2 separate regions of the Homo sapiens genome follow, and region 2 is linked to region 1. Evidence: fine-mapped expression QTL. A gene starts in region 1. The other region holds a variant in brackets. All regions are shown on one strand. Distances are between the middles of the regions.

What was found.
Region 2: its variant is fine-mapped to the expression of ABHD2 in whole blood (INTERVAL, PIP above 0.99). The same link has a PIP of 0.9 or more in neutrophils.

Annotation. Positions count from the first base shown.
Region 1 is chr15:89,084,172-89,094,806 of GRCh38, forward strand. It overlaps ABHD2 (abhydrolase domain containing 2, acylglycerol lipase), which reads left to right and starts at 4,285. Exons shown (of 11, transcript NM_152924.5): 1 at 4,285-4,392. It overlaps LOC124903573, which reads right to left. Exons shown (of 7, transcript XM_047433432.1): 3 at 8,005-8,070; 4 at 6,964-7,112; 5 at 4,664-4,761; 6 at 3,897-4,515; 7 at 3,390-3,770. The coding sequence ends at 3,556. It overlaps CARMAL (coronary artery disease region linked MFGE8 regulatory lncRNA), which reads left to right. Exons shown (of 4, transcript NR_183882.1): 4 at 1-58. RefSeq lists enhancers at 3,048-3,693, 4,304-4,483, 4,425-4,944.
Region 2 is chr15:89,123,095-89,133,729 of GRCh38, forward strand. The region is part of intron 3 of ABHD2 (abhydrolase domain containing 2, acylglycerol lipase); the gene reads left to right. Among named protein-coding and RNA genes, the nearest start is that of ABHD2, 40 kb to the left of the region's middle. The variant A/G (reference allele first, on the strand shown) is at 5,954.

The DNA of each region.
Region 1 (10,635 bases):
AAAGTTTCTCGCACCAGGTGGTGAGATTTTGCTAGTGTAAAAAAAAAAAAAAAAAAAATCCTGCATGTGTTGGAGAGTGTGTATATAGGAACTGTCTGTACTTTCCACTTAATTTTGTTATAAACCTAAAACTATTTATTTATTTAGAGACAGAGTCTCCCTCTGTTGCCCAGGCTGGAGTGCAGTGGTACGATCTTGGTTCACTGCATCCGCCGCCTCCTAGGTTCAAGCGATTCTCCTGCCTCAGCCTCCCAAGTAGCTGGGATTACAGGCACACGTCACCACACCCAGCTAATTTTTGTATTTTTAGTAGAGACGGTGTTTCGCCAATTGACCAGACTGGTCTCAAACTCCTGGCTTCAAGTGATCCGCCCACCTCAGCCTCCCAAAGTGTTGGGATTACAGGCATGAGCCACGGCGCCTGGCCCTAAAACTGCTTTAAAAAATAAAGTCTATCTATATTTTCTAAAAATCCTGAATCCTGTGATCACTACTTCTGAGGGCTAGAACTTAGAAAATGAGTGAGGACCTTAGAGGAAGGTTCTGAAATGGGCTCCTATAATAGCTGTGGCAAACATTTATTAAACATTTTTAGGTATTTGCCAGGTACTGTTTGATGCACTTTGCATCTGTGAACTCATCTGCCACTCAAAGGACCCCATGAGACAAGCACTTCACTGTCCTCTGCGTTTTACAGAAGAAAGTAGGGCACAGAGATGTGCTGTACTCGCCCAAGGTCACAAGGCTAGGAAGGATGGAATCAGGATCCAATCCCCAGCAGTAGAGCTTCCAAATCCCCTTTCTCTGAACCATCCCCCGAGGACACAGAATAACAAAAATGACAAACTGAGTGAATTGCTGATTTTCCTTAAAAGAATAAATAGAACATATTATCTGCTCCAACCACTGCTCCCTGCTGTCTCCCAGAGTACCTTGACTTTCTCAGGTTAGTAAATCCTGCAGAGGCCCCAGTTGAGTTAGAAGCAGTTCTGCTTTAATGAAGTCCTGCAGCTTTGGCCATCCCAGAAGGTGACTGGGGCATACCCTCTCCCTTGTTCTTTTTTATTACAAGGTACTGTCACGGTTTTGAAAATTCACTTTACAGCCACATCCCAACACCTGCTTATCTCAGGCCAAGGCTCACCAAATCCTCAATCCCAACGGGCCACTAAACTTGAAGGCAAAAATAAGTCCATTTTGTCTCCTAAATGGCCTCCCTCAGAAATGATTTATAGAATGAAATAATATGATTAAACAGAATATGGCAAGACTGCAAGCAGAAGGGAGGAAACAGAAACCAGAGACAATTAAGGAAACAGTTCTGTGTGCTGGGAAATGATAATGGATCATTCTTTAAGCCTGCCAGAGCTGCAGAGAAGATGCCCGGATCCTTTTACTCTTCCTCCTCTTCCTGAGCTCAGTCTGTGCCTCTTTTTGAGCCTCTGTGACATAATTGTGTTTTAGAATTCCTGAACTGGAAAGATGTCCTTTTCTGGAACTGGTGGCTGAACCTATGTTCCTGAGATGGGAGAAAAAAGCCATTTACACAATGGCGAGCCCATCTGCAATCTACTCCTAACAGCTGCTTTTTGTGGCTCTGAATCAAGTTGGAGAAATCATCCTGGATCTCAGGAGCCACTTCATGCTTTTCAGGGCCTAACAAGACATCTCACTTTCCCTTAGCAAACACAGGCAGAAGCAAACCTGTATTGGGCTGGGCCTATTTCCGTAACATGCATGCAGCCATGTGTATGGCTACCAAGCAGCACTGTTTAAAGACAAGAACCAGAAAACTGTGGATCAGAACCAAATGTGTACATAGATATGTGTACACACCCCTCCAAAACTAGTGACAAATCTTTTTTGTTTTTTTTTTTCTGAGACAGAGTCTCACTCTGTCATCCAAGCTGGAATGCAGTGGTGCAATCTCACTGCAGCCTCTGCTTCCTGGGTTCAAACGATTATCCTGCCTCAGCCTCCTGAGTAGCTGGGATTACAGGTGTGTGCCACCATGCCCAGCTAATTTTGTATTTTTAGTAGAGATGGGGTTTCACCATGATGGCCAGGCTGGTCTGGAACTGCTGACCTCAGGTGATCCTCCTGCCTTGGCCTCCCAAAGTGCTGGGATTACAGGCTTGAGCCACTGTGCCCAGCCTATTTTTTAAATTATTATTAATTTTTAATTGACAAAATTTGTATATATTTATGATGTACAACATGCTTTACTTATTTATGTTTATCATGTTATTATGTTTATTTGTCAAACAAGGTCTCACTCTGTGGCCCAGGCTGGAGTGCAGTGGTGCGATCACAGCTCACTGCAGCCTCAACTTCCTGGGCTCAAACAACCCTCCTGCCTCAGCCTCCCCACTAGCTGGGACTACAGGCATGCACCACCACATCAGGCTAAATTTTAAATTTTTTGTAGAGACGGGGTCTCACTATGTTGCCCAGGTTGGTCTCAGACTCCTGGGCTCCGCCTCAGCTTCCCAAAATGTTGGATTACAGGCGTGAGCCACTGTACCGGTCCATGTTTTGATACATGTATACATTGTGGGATAGCTACACCAAGCTAGTTAACATATGCATTACCTTATATACTTATCTAGTGATAATCTAAAGCTCTTTTTTGGAAGTCCAAACTGTTTTAACTCAGAGTCAGGACGATGGGGTTCATCACTAAGAGACTTTGCTACTGAAGCCTGGGTTTTTCTTTTCCAAGATGAAAGAGAATACAGAGGAATATATAAACACTGAGATGAAACCTTTTTTTTTCAAGGTAACATGACAACTGAATGAAAAATAGAGCAATGGCAAAGGATTCTTTCTTCTCCTTCACTCTGATGTACCATGGCTGTGAGTTCTTTCAAAGACAGACACAAAGGGTCTGGGGCTACATTCAGGCCTGAGAAGCTATTTCTGTCCACACTCTGTGATGTCTACACCTTCAGAATGGGGAATGGGTTTCAGGGGTCTCTGACAGATAGAGCTCATGCAATGATTTCTGGTCCGGTGCTGATCAGCCTTCAAAGGATGTTATTTGGTTACGCTCCATAAAACTTGAGCCAGCCCACTGTTCCTTGTCACAACCTGAAATATGTTGGGAAAAATTTACATGGTAACAAATGCCACTTCCCTTCTCTGACTAAATCGCTCCTCTCATTTCATCCCCTGCTCCCTCTCTCCGAGCCCTATGGGGCCTTGGTAGGGTGGCCTTGTCTGCCCTACAGGGGTTGCATTTCAAGTCGCTCAAGTGTTCTATTCTTGGTACACGACATGCCATTGCAAAAGCAGTTTCAGGCTCATAGAATTTTAGAAATGGGCCTAGTTTCCCAGCCGGATGAGGTGAGTGGGTGATGGGGGAAGAATCAGCCTTGATTGAATGCCTGTTGAGTGCCAGCCACTGTTGGCATTTATCAGAGTTTATTTAATCTTCTCATCAACTACTATTGTTACCCTCAGTTGCCAAGTGAAGGGAGCATGCGGGAAGGTTAAGTGACTTGCCCAAGCCCACACAACCGGTAGGAGCCCCAATTCCAGGCCCTAGTTCCAAGGCTACATTCTTCCAGGCGGCCTCCAACTGGGTTGGTTAAGGGTTGAAAGGACAGTGGGACAATAACTGAGGCCCGTATTGCCCAGAGCGTCCCCATCCCCCGTCCGGAGCTGGAAGAGGCCATAGACCGCTGCCTCCACATCTTTTCCTCTCCTTCGGGTTCGGTGACTCACGACCCTTCTTCCTCTCTCCCGGGATATGACCTCAAATTTCACCCCTGCGAAATTTGAGTACACGTGAGTCAGTCAGTCGGCCTGGACCCATAAGAGCCCCAGCTGAGCTACCAGCAGCTGAGCTACCAGCCGACCTCATTCCTCTGAGCCCAGTCGACAGCTGACCTTACCCAGCCCTCTAAAGCAGTTTGCGGTCACAATTACCCGTCTCTTCACCCCGCCCCCATCGACATCAAACACGACCCACCTTCTAGCCCTCCTCCCCTTTCCCCGCCCACTCCGGGCTGGCCTTATCCAGTAGCGTCTGGGTCCCTGGACTAAAGCCGTCAAATGTAACCAATTGCTGAGGAGCTCTCCCCTAAGAATCCCGCCTCCACTCTGAGGAACAGCTTCGCTGATCAATGGATCCCCTCCTAGACGCAATGAGCGCGCGGGGCAAGTGGAGAAGCGGCTGAACTGCCCAATGAACAAGCGGTTTCCGTGGTTAGGGGCGTGGCAGAAGCGGTCGTCAGGGGCGTGGCGGCAGTTACTTGGGCGGGGCCGGTAGCGGCGGGAGCTGCACTGGCCAGGGGTTCCGGCTGTATATCCATGAGCGCCGCTGGCAGCCGGGGAGCTGCAGGAACCAGACTGGGGGCGAGCTGAGCACCTGTAGTCAATCACACGCAGGTAAAGCCACGGCCGAGCGAGCTCCGCGGAGCGGGGATCGCACCCCGGACCCGTCGAACCGAATCTCCGAGCCCCGAGGTCCCCGGCGTAGCTCGGCCCATCACGCCGCAGCCTGAGGGGATCCTGGGGGGCCTGTCATCTGGCGCCGTGGGGGTCCCAGGGGCTGGCTTGCCCAGTGGTGGGGACAGCCCAGATCGCGGCGGGGGATACGCCTTCCTGAGGCCCTTTGTCCCCTTCTGCCCGAGGAACCGAGGTTGGGGACAACCCCGACCGCGGCCTTTCCCCCATTGGTGCTCACTCCTGGGTCTTCAGGGGCCTGGGGAGGGGTCTGCCGGTTCAGGCTCGGCGAAGAAGGTCCGGGATCCGCACCTGGAAGGAGAGGGCCGAGGGGCCTGATTACAGCCCGAGATACCCGAGAGGCCTCTGTGTTTCGGGGCTCCAGGGGCTCACGCAGGACCAGTGGGTTTAAGTTCTAGAAAGGCAGCTTTTGACCCACTTGGAAGCACATTTACCGAGTTCGGCCCCGCGACCGGCACTGTTCTAGGCCCTTCGTGAGCTTTTCCCACAGCTAGAGCTGTCCAGCAGCGCAGGAGGCTGCCTGCCAGGCCGGGCAGCTAGCGCCTCGACCTTGGCGATGTCCAAGCAGTGGCCTGATGACAGCCACCTGTGTCGGATGCTTAGGACTCCCAAGGGAGGACTGCATGACCCATCTGTAAGGGCCTTCTCTACCCACAAATGCACTCTAAGTGGCCTTTGATGCCTAGCTTGAGAAGAGTACTTCTGGGGGTCCATTAGGTTCCAAGTGGCTGTTGAATTCACCCATAATGAATTTTGAGGTTTCAGCTCTCAAGAGTGGGTGTTAGCAAAGAGACTGGATTATACAAAAAGATAGAGGTTTATTTAGCCACTGTGAAACTCCTTGTATTTGAACTACCATGGACCGCTCTCTTAATCTTCCCAATCTCTCTTTTTTGGTTGCTGGACCTCCAGTTTGTCAGTTTCACCTGCATTCCAGTAACCAAATCCAAAGGCATGTTCCAAGAACAGGCTCCACAGAGGGACCTGGAGAGACTGCAGGTTTGGCAGAGTCAACAAGATCTGTGCCCAGAGCTTTTCGAAGGCCGTTTCCTTACAGCCACATTAAGCAGAGTCCAAAAGAGAAATCCTTCACTACCCTCTGTCATTTGCCGGAATAGAGAGAACATAATAATCTAAAGGTCAGGAGGCAGAGAAAGAATCTTAACACACCTTGCTGTGTGTTTTAGGATGAATTAATCTTTGAACATCTAGTCAGAAAGCAGTCCATATACAGCTGGTAGTCAGCACGGACTGTGACATTTTAGAGCTGAAGGCACCTTAGATAGAGCTCATCTCTATCTAAGTCTAATTAGGTGGACTCTCATTCAGTCTCCTCAATGCACAGGTGAGGAAACTGAGGCCTGGGGTGGTCACAGGGCTGGTTGGTCATCACAGGCCCATGACTAAGGGTTGATCTCTTGACTGTATTTAGATCTAGCCAGTGCATGACTTATTTCACTCCAAGCTTAGTTTGCCCATTCTCAGTGTTTTAAGTTCTAGGGGAGTCCAGAGAGGTTAGGAGGACAGATTTTGGTGCCTGAGTGCCTGGATTTGAATCCCAGCCCTGCCTCTTACTGGCTGTACAACCTTGGGCAAGCTACTTAACTTCTCTGTGCCTCTGTTTCCTCACCTCTAAAACAGAAATAATAATGATACTTATGTTAGAAGATTGTTTTGAGAAGTGCATGGAGTTACTACATCTGAAGCATTTAGAACAGTACCTGGCACAGGGTAAGCACAATAGATTTGCTAGATATGATATTCTGTTGCCTTTTTGTACATTTTTCTTCATATCCACCACCCAATACTCTATCAAGAGCTAATTTTTCCCCCAGTCCCCTTCCCCCCACCCCCAAATTCATTTAACATATTCCAGATTTCATTTTAACACAGACAGCTGCAAGGGGTTTCCAAGTCACGTTGCATTTTATACCTTACTTATTTTTGTGATTCAGGTAATTTAGTTTCTATGTTAGTTCCCCCTTGCAGTTACATTCTTCTTAGGCTCTGAACCCTTTAAAATTATCGTTAAAAGCAGGCAGTGAGGGGTGGGAATCCCTCGAAATGGTAAAGTCCTGGATGATACCCGTGTCCATGGTGTCCTTCCAAATATGTATTCCCTCTCTTCAGCCCTCCTCCCAAGCGATGAGTGTGATGCAGCTTGATTCTAAATGGATGAACATTTTTAGATTAAGATTTTATGAGCCACTGTATTAAGTGCTTTTCGGAAGTTCAGGGATCATGTGTCAACTGCATTTAAGGAAGTTACTTAGTCATTCGAATAGGGGGAGCACCAGCAGCGCCTGCCTGGCCTGGCAGAAGCAAAAGTGTGTGACTGATCCGTGCTGGCAATCTAGCTGGTTCACTGGTTTATCTGTGTTTTTCCTGTTCTTTTCCAAAGCTTGAAATAAACCAGATGGCAAGTACAAGGGAATGGTCTTTTTCCTCTCATTTTAGTCAGGGTCGTTCACTTTTTTCCCTTTTTACTCTCACCTTCATTTCCTTTATCGCCTGCGTGGGTCTGACAAATAGGCACTCTCAGTGTGCCAGCCAATTCCCTTTTGATGAAAAGATGCCTGCCACTTTCATTTTTTGCAGGAATCCAGTCACCTTTGATTTTCTCTTCTGTTTTTACTTGTTTTCTAGATTGAACCAAAGATTATCACTTCATTAAATGGCACCTTCTCATGCTTTATTTTTCTTGAGTTGATTCTGAATTTCGGTTTTTGTTTAAGCTGTTCTAGAGATCAGCCATTTTAGAATAATAGTTTTCATTTCTTTGCTTGTGTATTAATATGGGCCCCTTTCTCTCTTTCTCACTCTCTTTTCTCAGTATTTTGGTGGATGAGCTTCTCATTTGCTGTTACTCGTTGCTTTAAGCATTTACGCCTTTTCCTGGTAATCTCCGGCAGGACCCATAACCTCTGTAGTGGTTCTCACTGCCCTTGTTCAGAGCTCCTGCCCCGAGCAGGAAATAATTTCTTTGGTCTTATGGGAGACAGGGGTAGAGTCTGTCTTATTTTTTGCCTAAAATCTGGCTCTTTTAAAAGCCCCAGGAGAGAGACATTTCCAATATAATTGAATTTTGTGTGGCAGAATTTCTACCATGACCTACAGCTTACAGTATTCCCATTTTTATTGCATTGTGAGTTTTGAGTACTCCATGACCAGTTTCAGAGTATAGATGATGTGGGGCATGAGTTGCTTTAGCCTTTCTGTTTCATCTTGGGCTAAGCTATCCCCAGGAACAGAGCAATGAGAAGTTCAGGGTGCCTCTTAAATGTGTCTGGTGTCAGGATTTTATAGCAGCTTTTCATGGTTCAGCCTTTTTGGCCAGTGCATGAGTAGGACATTTTTAAGCCCTGTGCTGCTGTTTCTTTGTTGATACCATACAGATGCTACATTATCTCCTTTCAGGATTTTCATATCTGCAGATTGATTTTTGTTGTCTTGTCCAGGGCATCATATTTTTGGATTGAATGTTTTCTGTTTGTAAAATGGTTGGTGTGGACAGACGATAAGCTCCACCATTACCCCTGAAGCTTGTGGACTGGGGCCATTTGGGTGAGGGGCTTGTTACACACCGACTCATTGTCTGATCTTTCACAATAAATAGCAGACAGGTGAAGAGCTTTTTAGAGAAGTGGAACGTTGGTACCCTTGGATTTGCCTGGTTTCTGATTTTCTTTTGTTGTCTTTAAGTGGAGGTTCATTAAGTTCAACAAATTAAGCATCTGGTGTGTGCCAGGAACACAGTTGACAAGATTAACAAATTAGTTTGGTTTGTTGCTTAAAAACTATTTTGTTTTAAAATTGTTTTTAATAGAAATTTTAAAATTTTTTAATTCAAATTTTAGTTTTTAAAAATAGGCAATACATTCACATGATGAAAGAAAATTTTTTAAAGGCACAAAAGGTTAACTAGTAAATACATCTGTGTGTACCCCTGACCCCTGATCCTCAGAGGCAACCAGTATTAGCGATTTCTTCATCCTCCAGAAGTGGTCCCTGAACTTCCAAGGGATTTTATACATCTGTAAGCAAATTCGTTAAACATATTCTGTACACCACCCCTTTTTGCAGAAATGGTAGCACACTGCATACATGCTATTTGGAACCTTGCCTTTTTCACTTAATATTTCTTGGCAGTGTGAAAAGAGCTTCCACGTCATTTTTTATGAAGGCCGTCTATTTTAGATATCTGTTTTCTGTTTCTAAGGATGCTAAAAAACAGTCTTATTTAGGCAGCAGCTTTGCTGGAGATCTTAAAGATCTTGTGAATATTTGGAGGCAAATATTTTTCTTTTCTGTGAGAGCCCGGGGGAGGTGCAGGGGAGCTTCTAAAGGTCAGCTGAGAAGGGAGAGCTGGGGCACTGGAGAGTGAGGAACGCATTGGTCCTTGGGCCCTTCTTCGCCTTGCCGTCTGTGCAGAATGTGCTAGCATTTCCAGGGAAAGTTTGCCGTTTGCTCTCTGTTCTCCAGAGAAGCTTCCTGGCCTCCCCAAGTCACATTTCCAGCATCTTTTTTCATTCTTTTTTTTTTTTTTTTTTTTTTTTGAGACAGAGTCTCACTTTTGTCTCCCAGGCTGGAGTGCAGTGGCGCAATCTTGGCTCGCTGCAACCTCTGCTTCGCGGGTTCAAACGATTTTCCTGCCTCAGCCTCTCAAGTAGCTGGGATTACAGGCACACGCCACCACCCCCAGCTAATTTTGTATTTTTGGTAGAGACAGGGTTTCACTATGCTGGTCTCAAACTCCTGACCTCAGGTGATCCTCTTGCCTCAGCCTCCCAAAGTGCTGGGATTACAGACGTGAGCCACCGTGCCTGGCCTCATTTCCAGCATCTCTGTTGCATTTCATCCCGTCTCCTGCACCACAGCATCACTCCATTTGTCCTGCCTTTGGGCGTCCAAGAGGAAGCCTGCCCTTTGTCACAGCACTTTCTGTTTGGGTAGCTTTAAGTGTCTCACCCCTTCTTTTCTCTCACCCCAGGAAAAACCAGCTCTCACACCTGCTCCTCTGTAAAGCGTCTTCCCCAAGCCCACACGTAATTTTGTTGCTGTCCTTGAAAGTATTTCCCAAGATCTCCAAACCGCTTTAAACTTCCAAGGTCTGAGCCTGACCTGGCCTCGCTAACAAAGGGTTCCACTGATGCCGACTCTAAGAAGAAAGTTTTCAAGGTTCTTCGTATTTGAACTTTCTATGGCTAGGCTTATGTTTAAAATAACCACACTGATTTAAACATGGTCTTATAGTCTTCAGTGGCTCCCAGGTCTTGCCTCTCGGGTTTTTTTTCCTCTTTCCTTTGAATGTGCCTTAACCTTCGTCTTGCTTTTATTTACCTCTGAGTCTGGTTTAGAGCCACCTGGAAATTGAATGGAATCTTTAGTCTATTAGTCTAATCTAGAGTCCTTACCTTCTGGCCTTTGCTCATTGCAGAGCCCCCACATTATTAGTCAGTTGTACCACAGATACTGTGTTACATAAGGTGAGGAGAGGGAGGTGGTGTTATCAGTTCCACTTTTTCCAGGCTAGAGTGCAGTGGCCCGATCTCGGTGCACTGCAACCTCTGCTTCCCGGGTTCAAGCGATTTTCCTGCCTCAGCCTCTCATTTTATCTTGGATAAAAGAGAAGCTTTGAAAGATTGCCTCCCTATGTGTACAGTCACTGTAGGCATGTATTTGTGTACTGTTTACTTAGTCATGTCAATGAGGGCAATAAAAAACAAAAATCAGGAAGCCCAACATGGATTGCTACATTTTAATTCTTTCAAATAAGGAAATACAGCAGGGCTTGGTGTCACTACGCCTGTAGTGACAGCACTTTGGGAGGCCGAGGCGGGCGGATCACCTGAGGTCAGGAGTTTGAGATCTGCCTGATCAACATGGTGAAACCCCGTCTCTACTAAAAATACAAAAATTAGCTGAGCATGGTGGTGTGCGCCTGTAGTCCCAGCTACTTGGGAGACTGAGGCAGGAGAATCACTTGAACCCAGGAGGCAGAGGCTGCCGTGAGCCAAGATCGCACCACTGCACTCCAGCCTGGGCGGCAGAGCAAGACTCCGTCTCAAAACAGCAACAACAACAACAACAAAAACAAATAAGGAAATACAAAAGCCCTGTCATCTAAAAAGATATTTTAGCCTGGGTGCGGTGGCTCACACCTGT
Region 2 (10,635 bases), 39 kb after region 1:
GATTTGAGAGACACCTGAAACTTAGGGGTGAGGGGCATACCCACTAACACCAAGCCAAAAATTACAGTTGGCTCTCCTATGCCATGGTGCCCTCTCTGGACGTGTCCGCCTGGAAGCTGCTTCAGGTAGTCATAAGAGAATGGGAGGAGCCCTGTGGCCCTTCCATAGACCATAATGGATTCATCTCCGGTGGTTTTCCCTTTTTCTCTTCACTCACCGGAGTACAAGCTCCAAACGGAAATCCAATTGGAATGCTGTTCTCATCATAATGTGTCCAAACCTTTAGTTTCCTGCCAATTAGTCATCCATCAGCCTTGGTTAGTGAGCATTTGAGGATCTACTTCTCTGAGACTCATCGTGGGGAGGCATTTGTAAAAGATCAGTTTTTCAAGCTTTTTAATTACGGAAGTTTTCTAGAGGCACTTTTTAAAAATCAGTTTCCTCACAAATGTGCTTCCTAGTTATTTCTCTTTTTTTTTCTCCTTTCTTTCTTTCTTTCTTTTTTTTTTTTTTTTTTTTTTGAGACAATGTCTCACTCTATTACCCAGGTTGGAGTACAATGGCACAATCATGGCTCATTGTAGCCTCAACCTGCTGGGCTCAAGAGATCCTCCCATCTCAGCCTCACAAGTGTCTGGAACCAAAGGTCCACACCACCATGGCTGGCTAATTTTTAAAAATATATTTGTAAAGACAGGGTCTCACCTGTGTCACCATGTTGTACAAGCTGGTCTTAAACCCCTGGGCTAGCGATCCTCCAGCCTCAGCCTCCCAAAGTGCTGGGGTTATAGGTGTGAGCCACCACACCCAGCCCCTAATTATTTCTAATAAAGCAGAGCAAATCTACTTTTGATTTTTCTCTCAAACAGTACCAACTCCCTCTCTATTGCTGTTGTACATACTTCTTAACAGTAAATATCCATTTTTCTTTTATCTGCCCCAAATAAGAGCTCAGTTCTGTGTGTACGAACACTATATTTGTCATAGATATGCAAAATATGCTATTTTTGTCCTAGTGTACCAAGGAAGTATTAAATAATTAGAAATACACTACAGAAAAGCACTCATTCAAATCTCTCTGATAGTGCAATATATGGAGTTATTTTCTGGATCTAAAGAGCACGGGACTCCATATATGAAACGGCCACTTCTTCCATTTTCTTTTCTGCCTACTTGTTATAAAGCTGTTTCTTTGCAGAGGCAGTACCAATGCAGAGGCTGGGGTTAGGAGCTTTGAGATGGACAGTTGTTGTTTTCTCAATCTTAAAGCATCAGGCAAATGCAACTTCACACACTCTCTTCCAGTCAGATTGCCACCCTAGGCCCCTCCTAGGTAAAAAAAATTCTGGAACCAGCACAGCTTATTTATTTATAGCAAGTTAAAGCTGAAAAGAATTTCATTATCTTTGACTTAAATTTCTCTTAATTCCCTCTTGCTCACAGACATTCCACATCAGATTTAGATCCTTTCCTTCTTGGCTGAACACTAAAGCTTTGTCCTTTTCACAGGATAAATTCCTAATTGCCAAGAGCCTTAATTCCATCGACCTGATTTTATCTGTTTTAAGAGTTGTGCAGACTGGGCATGGGGGCTCATGCCTGTAATGCCAGCACTTTGGGAGGCTGAGGTGGGTGGATCACGAGGTCAAGAGATCAAGACCATCCTGGCTAACATGGTGAAACCCCGTTTCTACTAAAAATACAAAAATTAGGGCTGGGCGCGGTGGCTAACACCTGTAATCCCAGCACTTTGGGAGGCCAAGGCAGGCGGATCACCTGAGGTCAGGAGTTCGAGACCAGCCTGGCCAACATGGTGAAACCCCGTCTCTACTAAAAATACAAAAATTGGCCGGGCATGGTGGCAGGTGCCTGTAATCCCAGCTAATCGGGAGGCTGAGGCAGGAGAATTGCTTGAACCCAGGAGGTGGAGGTTGCAGTGAGCTGAGATCGTGCCATTGCACTCCAGCCTTGGGGACAAGAGTGAGACTTTGTCTCAAAAAAAAAAAAACCAGTTAGTTGGGCATGGTGGCACATGCCTGTAGTCCCAGCTACTGAGGAGGCTGAGGCAGAAGAATCACTTGAACCTGTGAGGCAGAGGTTGCAGTGAGCCGACATTGCGCCACTGCACTCCAGCCTGGCGACAGAGGGAGACTCCATGTCAAAAAAAAAAAAAGAGTTGTGCAAATATTTCTTTGGATATTTCTGGTAAACTATTAACAAGTGATTGGCAGAACTGTAGTGTTCTGATGTGCTTATTTTGTAGCCACCAGACCTTCAGAGCATATTCACCTGCAAACTTATATTGTTAGAAAATTCCTGAAAAATGGAAGACTCAAAATCATCTTGATTGAGGCTAAATATTAAGGGCTAGCCTCAATAAGTCAAACTTTTAGGCAATTTCATCTTAAAATTGCTCATGTTTCTGGTGAAATAGCCCAAACCAAAACTGTCAAAGTAAGAAAGTTAAACTGCTGACTCTGGGACACTCTTTTATTACTTGGCTGACCAAACATTCCAGTTTGCTCAGGACTGGGGCATGGGACTGTCAGTACTAATACCGGGGAATTCCAGGGCAAACAGGGATAAGTTGTTCACCCTCTCAACTACTCACTATCTTGGATGTTGCCTGCCTGCCCTGTCTCTGCTGTAGCAGGTCATTTATGCAAGGGGCCAGCCACATCAGGAAGAAAAGTGCCGCCATCTTTGAGGTCTCCTATATTGAATCAAGATCACCAAGTCTGAGTCTGCTGCAGAATTCATCCACCTTCTCTAACCTAGATACAGATTGTAGCTTCTTCTTAGAGACTTTATGCCTTCTTATAGGAATTGCCGAAGCCTGAAAGATCTAAAAAAAGGTTCGGAATCCAAAATAGTCAAGACTCCCGTGATTTAGTTCAGATGGAAAAAGGCTCATCCTTTATGTGCCGAGCATTCTTTAAAACAACCAATTCTGGTTTCCAAAAATGTATGACCCTTATACCGCCCTATTCATCATACCTGAGTTTACTCTTCAGGGCCCTACTATGTCTCCAAAAAAGGAGTATATGTCTTCCAAAAGGAAGTATATGCTACAACTGATTCCATCACGTGGTATCAAATTCAGTACATGTGGACGGTAAGTGGGCCTTGGCTCCACGTGTAAGGTCCTGTTTTGAGTCACCCCTCTGTGTCACCCCTTCCCAGACTCGATTTCAGAATCCACCTTGGTTCACCATTCATCCTTAACTTTTAGCTTACACCTCATTTGCTTTACAGGACTTACATGGAATCAGATCTACTTTTATACTCCTTCTCAATGTGTGGTTGACTGAAAATTGCTCCACTATCCGGGAGCAGGAAATGGACCTTGTTTTCTAGAAAGTCTCGAATTTCTAAGGATAGCCAACTTTTATCAGCCTCTCATGTTTTACTGACCCTGTGAATTCAGAGGTTGCCAATTTTGATCTCCACTGTTCTTTTTCTCTGCCTGCTTCTCAGCATGCCCTCCTTCACTATGATAGTACACTTTGTACTACAAAATAGTATATACTTTATGGTAAAATAAAATTAAGACAGTAAACTGACTTGGAAAATATATTCTGGAGGGTAAGTAAGAATTTTTCCTAAACTCTCAGTGCCAGTGTCATGCAGTGATGTGGAGAGTGAAGAGCTGACGGCTGTTTACGCTTTTCTTTGTCTGAAGCAACAGTGAGTGAAGTGACTGGCTTTAGAAGCCCAGTCTTCTTCAGCAGCATCAAGAATACTTCCCTGCAAATGGAGTCTGTTTGGGATCCTGAGCTTTAGGGTCAGAATTTATTAGATGGTGTAATGTTTACTTAAGGAAAGCATTTTCCTGAGTTTATAAGGAAATCTACCCCTCCATGAAATTCTAGAAAGCTATAACTAATACAGAAGGCTGTAGTCCTTGAAGACTTGATTTTATGCATGATTGGATGAGATGCCATTGCTGTTTGCTACCCCATGACTGTCAGTAGTCAGACTGAGAAGTGCCCTCTACCAAGTACCAAGGGCCGGGTACTCCTCAGAGGCCCTCCATCTGCCTGAGGTAGCTGCCTGCAGTGTAGTATCACGGTGAGCCATGGAAATGAGTCAGCCATTGTGGCAGCTTGTGAACCACCCTAACTCTACCTGCTGTCAGTTTCTAATCATAGAGTGAGGGCTCTGGGTCAGCGTGGGTGCATGGCATCAAACCAGATGGCTTAACTTCTGAGGTAGCCATTATAAGAGTCTGTAATCCAAAACATTTGGGAACCCTGCCTGGAGATCAGTGGTTGATCCAGAACCATCTGTAGCCTCCCAGGAAGGGAGAGATTTGTGAGAAACAGCAGGTTATATGTTTTTCTACCCTTCCACTGAGTACTAATGCCATTGCCATGACCAACCTGACTTTCCTGTGATATGTAGCACCAAATCCTCCTGCTGGCAAGACCCTGAACTGGTGTTTTCAGCCAGATCACAAAAGCTTGAACAGTAATTTCTTACTGATGTAAAGTGAGAAACTCCATAAATGCTTTTTAAAATGTTGACACCTGCCAAGCCACAGCAGTATGGACTTTTCCTTCCTTGGGATTTGAATAAAGGAAGATTCTTCTCAGTGAATATATATATATACATATATATATATACACATATATATATATATATATGTATATTTTAAAAATTAGTCAATTAGTAATATTTAGTAACCTGCTCTTCCAGTCTGTTCACCGTCTGTACACCATACTCAGCCCCTTCTATATCACACACAATACTTTTTCTCACATTTCCACCTTCTCTGTCTGTCAGAATCCTCAGGCCTTCTCAAATCGTAGCTCTTCTAGTAGCTCCTGACTTTTACCTGTCTCTGTCTCATTGGCTCTTACCTAAGGACAGGGATGGAAACAATAACTTTCCACATATGTATCTCTCGTCACACCTCAAGTGTATTCTGAGAGGCTTAAGGACAGAGACTGTCTTAAAAATTCTCTGTCTTCCCTGTGGTTGCTGCTTCTTGTAGAGTCAGTACACACTAACTTCAGTAGAGTCTTTTGGTAGGAACATGTGATTGACAGAGTGAGTAATTCAGGTAAGTGATAAAGGAATTTAGAGAAAGAGGGGATATTCCTGTGGTGGCTTGACTGATGAGGTCTTCCATAATCCTGAAAGATTAGTTGGCTTTGGATAGATGGGACAATAGGAGAGAAGGCACAGATGTTGGTGTGAGCATGAACCAGTAAAATCAATTATTTAAACAAGCACTCATGGCAGAAAACTGGCTTTGCTGCCCAGGCCAACACTTTTCACCCATCCACCTTTGTCCTTTTGTCCTGTGGGCCTTCCAACCAGTCAGCAGGATAAGAAGGTGGTAGAGGCCTTGCTGCCATTGACACATATCCACGTTGTCAATGCTTTGCCGTCACCACAGCTACTCTATTCTTGTCTCCTAATTCCATGGATCTTCATTTGGCTAGACTTTGATTGTCTCTCTTGTAACTCCCAAAAATGATCTTGGTGCTGCTTGCATCATGTTTGGCCCTGCTACCCAGTCTGCCCTTTGCTCACTGTGCCCTTTGATTTTGTTTGCTAATGGGTTTTGGGCCCCATCACTGGTCTGGTCTCTATAGTTGCTTCGTGGCCAGCTCCTCACCAGGTCCCTATGCCACGATCTGGTGAGCTGAGAGCTGTTTGATTGTAGCAGAGAGCCCTATGGTCTGTGGGGGGGAGGAAGAGGAGATCAGATCACGAGGAGTCTCTAATTCCCAGAGAGGAAGAGTTTGGGCTTGATCCTGTGAGCACTGGTGGTAGGTGGTTGGAAAGGGAAGGATGGGACAAATTCCAGAGGTCTTCTAAGGTGGAATCAGTGGTATTGGTGGGTAATGGAATGGCCTTGGGCATCAGAGGAAAGGGCTGAATCACAGATTATGCTGAGGTTACTGAGCGGTTGAGAGAATAGAATCATTGACAGAAATAGGGA[A/G]GTCTAATGGGGAAGCTGCTTTCTCAAGGAAAGTTGTTTAGCTTGGGGCTTGTCCACAGGATGTGCACAGGGTTATGTGCAATTATGGCATTAGAACTTAGGTGGGAGCTCAAGACCAGATGTGTAGATTCCAGATCAGCTGCAGGTAGGGGAGGTTGTGGGGGTGGGCAGAGAGAGACACTAAAGACTGATGGCTGAGGCAGGCCATGGCTAGGGTGGAAGAGACAGAGACAGGCAGTAAGAAAGGTAGGGAGAGAACCAGCAGCCTCCAGTTCCATGGCAGCCAGAGAAGGAAAACATTGAAGAGGGTGTCAGAAACTCAGGAAGAATGAGGGCTGACCAAAGGCCATCTACCTTGGCCAGAAAGGATCAGGGATTTTTGAGAATGTGTTTTCAGGAGTGAGGTGAATAAACAGGTCAGCACAATAGCAACCAAAGAAGTGAGTCAGGAAACAAACACCAGAGAAGGAAGGAGAAAAAATGGAAACTGGAGGAGAAAGCCAAATTGATTGAAGGTTTTTCCCCTAAGATTGAGAGGGTAAATCCAGGGGCCCAAGTGAGAGGGTGAAGTTAGCGAGCTGTTGCCCCCCGGGAATCCAGAGTCCAGATCAGCAGTGAGACCCACCTGGGCTCAGATGCCAGCCCTGCCCCCTGCTGGCCAGTGGCTTCACCTTGCCGAGCTTCTATTTCCTCATTTGTAAGATGGGTATAATAGCACTTATTTCATAGGTTCAGTATGCTGATTAAAAAAAAAAAAAGAACAGCATGTAAGATGATTTATAGGATACTTGGCATGTGTAAGAGTTCAGTAAATATAGCTGCTATTATTGTAGCTATTTTTATTTTAATATTATCAGCTAGATCAGTTGTACAAATAGCAAAAGACATAATGTACACGAAGGTCACACAAGCACACCTGAATGTCAGTAGGACATCAGTGGGTAAGTGGGTAAAAGATGTGCCTAGATAAATTCCACATAAGGAAATACATGTAATAAGCACCTCATAATGTTAAGACTTGGTAACAATGAAGCCTTAAAACATGAAATATTATTTGATATTCAGAGGAAAATATGGCAATATTGTCAAAATTATATTAAGTTGGACATCGTATTAGTCGAAGTAAACTAGTTTATACTGTGGTAACTAATTACCTCTAAACCTGCACATCTTAAAGCCACAAATGTTTATTTCTCACTCATGCTACGTGTTTATTTCAATGGGCAGGAGGGCTCTGCTGATTGTCATCCCACCAGGACCCCAGCTGATGGAGGTGACATCTCAACACCTGCTTCCGTGGTCATCACCGAGCCAGGAAGAGCAATGTCACACCTCACACACTGGCTCTTACAGGCTGCTACCGGAAATGGCACTTGGTCATTTCCTTTCCCATTTCATTGGTTTGGGTGTCCAAGGGAGATAATACAGTCATGGGTTCTCAGTTTCTGTTTCTGGTTGGTCCGGTAAAGCCCCTTCCTCATCCCTGTTTTTTGCTTATCACTAGAGACAGAAACTACAAACCATGGCTTTAGGCTGCTAAAAGCCTACAAAAGAAACAGAACAATAACAACAAAATAAGGCAGGTTGGACAAGCTTGAGAGCTTGTCCAGCCCATAGCCCACAGACTGCATGTGGCCTGGGACAGCTTTGATTGCAGCCCAACACAAATTCATAAACTTTCTTAAAATATTATGAGATTTTTTGTGTGATTTTCTTTTTCTTTTAGTCCATCAGCTGTCATTAGTGTTAGTGTATTTTATGTGTGGCCCAAGACAATTCTTCCAAAGTGGCCCAGGGAAGCCAAAACATTAGACACCCCTGGTTTAAAGCAAGGCTCGTGCCCATGCCTAACTTGAGAAGCAGCACACCTGTGTCCAGAGAAGAGGAGAATAATCATGGCCACAGGCAGCAGCCTGTGTCACGTGGGCCTCCTTCCTTCTGTCCTTCACTCCATCTCTCCTTCAGTGCCTCTGCTTCACTGCAGGACGTCATCAGCTTTCACCTGGAAGAATGCAATAGCTTTCCCTCCATTCTCTACCCTTTCTAATTGATCTTGCAGGCCACCAAATTATCTTCCTAAAGCACAAATTCATCATGCCATGCCCCTGCTTTAAACCAAGTGGCTCCTCACTGTCTGTAGGGCGAGGTCCAGCATCAGCCCTCGCTCCTTCTTCCCTATATTCCTTGTGTTCTAGACACATCAGATCTCTCCACATTTTCTCATACTGCATGTTCTCTCTTGACTATGTCTTACATTTGCAATGCCTTCTACCTGGAATCCCTTCATACCTCCACACAGCCTCTTTATTTGAGAGAACATAATCACCTTCTTTCTGATGAATGCTTTCTGGACATTTATGGTTCTCTTCTCTGTTGTCTGATAGCATCTGGTGTGGCCTTGGGATCTAGGACCCAGCAGAGAGGTGAAGGGGCAGGATGGGAAGCCCTTCCAGAGGGGAACAGGCACAGGGACTCCTCAGTGGTGTGTCCAAGAAAAAGCAAAACTGGTTTCTGACTATTGAGAGACTAACAGGTCCCCTAGAGTCTGGAGACAAATTGATGATTGGCACATAGAAAACTAAGCTGATGAGGAAATGATAAAAGTGATAACTTGAGGGAAAATAAAAAATTTCACAAAAAAGAATACAACATATGACTTCTTTGTGGCTAATATTTCCATAATTATAATTTTATAAACACTGAAAATTAACCATAAGTGTTGCTGTAACAGTGTTGAAAAGAATGGGCGAGGGGAAAATGTAAGTCTTAGGAGAGACGTAAGAGAGCTAGCACCCTCCAGAGTAGGAAGTTCAATAGGTGCTATTGAAAACTGAAATTGAAGAACCAGCATAAGCAGGATAAGCATGGCATTAAGAAATAAAGGCAAGTGTGGGATGGTAGGGACGACTAAAGGAGTTAAGAATAGTCATCTCTCAGGGGCAGGAGTCAGGAGACAGATGAGGCATCCTGTTGGACTTTTTAAACAGGAGTTGAAAAACATGAAAAAAAAATTCAAGAAAGATGAAAACAAAATATGTAAAGATGTTTTGCTGGCATTGTTTATTATAGTAAAAACTGGGAATAGCAGCATCCAACAATGGAGGCAGCAGCAAGATAATGCAGGGGAAAGAAAGAGCTGTCGGGTCAGACACACACAGAGTTCAAATGCAGGGTCCGCTGTGCAGTAGGCTGTTGGACACTCAGTTTCTGTCTGTAAAGGGGGTCCTAATAATAAGAATCGCTGTAAGGGACAAATTGAATTATGTAACATGCCCATAGAAGGGGCTAAATAAATGTTTGCTCCCTCCCTTAACTATAGCTAATAAACAGGATAGAATTTTATGCAGACGTTCAGAACTTAGCATACTAATTATCTATAAAAATAGAGAATAAGTGAAAAAAGCAGAAGACAATTATATATCTCTATCTGAGCACCATTGTTGTAACTATGTAAATACTCTGCTTTCAGATAGATATAGATGAAAAGGAAACAAAAATGAGAATATTTTTGCAAGGCTTGTGAGGATATGGGTGATTTTTAAGCTTCTAATTTCTTATAGCTATTTCAAATTGATATGAAATTAAGAGGACTCTGAATATGCATTTCATCTTTCATAGTTTTGAAAGCCATTATCTTGTTCATTCCTAATAATAAGCAGTGACACCAGCACTGTCCTTTGCATTTGTCCTTTATATGTAAAGAGAGATGGACTTTGCTTTAGTAGGACTTTCTAGAACATGCTTATCTGCATGGTTTGGTGGCGCTCTCTCACTTTGTGGACAAGATGAAGGTCTGGTGCCTAAGCTGGGGTTTCTCAAGGATGGAGTTGTTGACCATCTGAGAAAATGTTTTCCTGTGCCCACATACCGTAGGGGAGGGCTGCCATTTCAACAGGGCTAACCCACAGCCATCAACAGTGGCTTCTATCAGCTTTTTGTAACTGTTCCTCTGACGGAAAGCTCCAGGGCAGCTGCATCATTTCCTTCCTCTTACATTTGTGCTCAAGGCTCACCCTGGTCAAGAAGCCTGGCTGCATTTCCCAGAGGTTCTTTTATCAGCCAGTAGAACCTATGACCTTGTACCCTCCGTGTTGCCCTTGCTGTCAGTCGGCTCTTGTTTATCCTTCCATCTTTTCTTTGTGAAATATCACTCAGAGATTTGTCCATAGGAGTGCTGAAAGAGCTTCCTCCATTTATGTCTTGACTGCTTCGTATTCCATAAAAAAATAGTTTGTTTAACCAGTCTCCTAGATAGAGGTTTCCTTTATTTGTAATCTTTTGCTTTCACAATGTTGCATTGAATGCTTCTGTATTTTCATCACGATGCGCACCTGTCAGTATAGGATAAACTCCTAGAGGTGGAACTACTGGGTCAAAGGGGATGTGCATGGAAAATTTTGCTAGCTGTTGTCCTCAAGCCTCTCCACACCAGCACTGTGAGCACATTTCCCCAAAACGTTGCCAACATCAGGAGTTCTACTTTTTGATATTTGCCAATCTGGTAGGTGAAAAATGTTTTCTCACTGTGGTTTTAATTAGTCTTTCTTTGATTAAAGAGACTGTGTATCTTTTCATATTTTAGAACTCTTTTTATTTCCTTTTCTGTTCACTGCCTGTTGGTGGCCTCTAACCATTTTTCTGATGGTCATTGGTCTTTTTCCTAATCATTTGAGGGAGCTCTT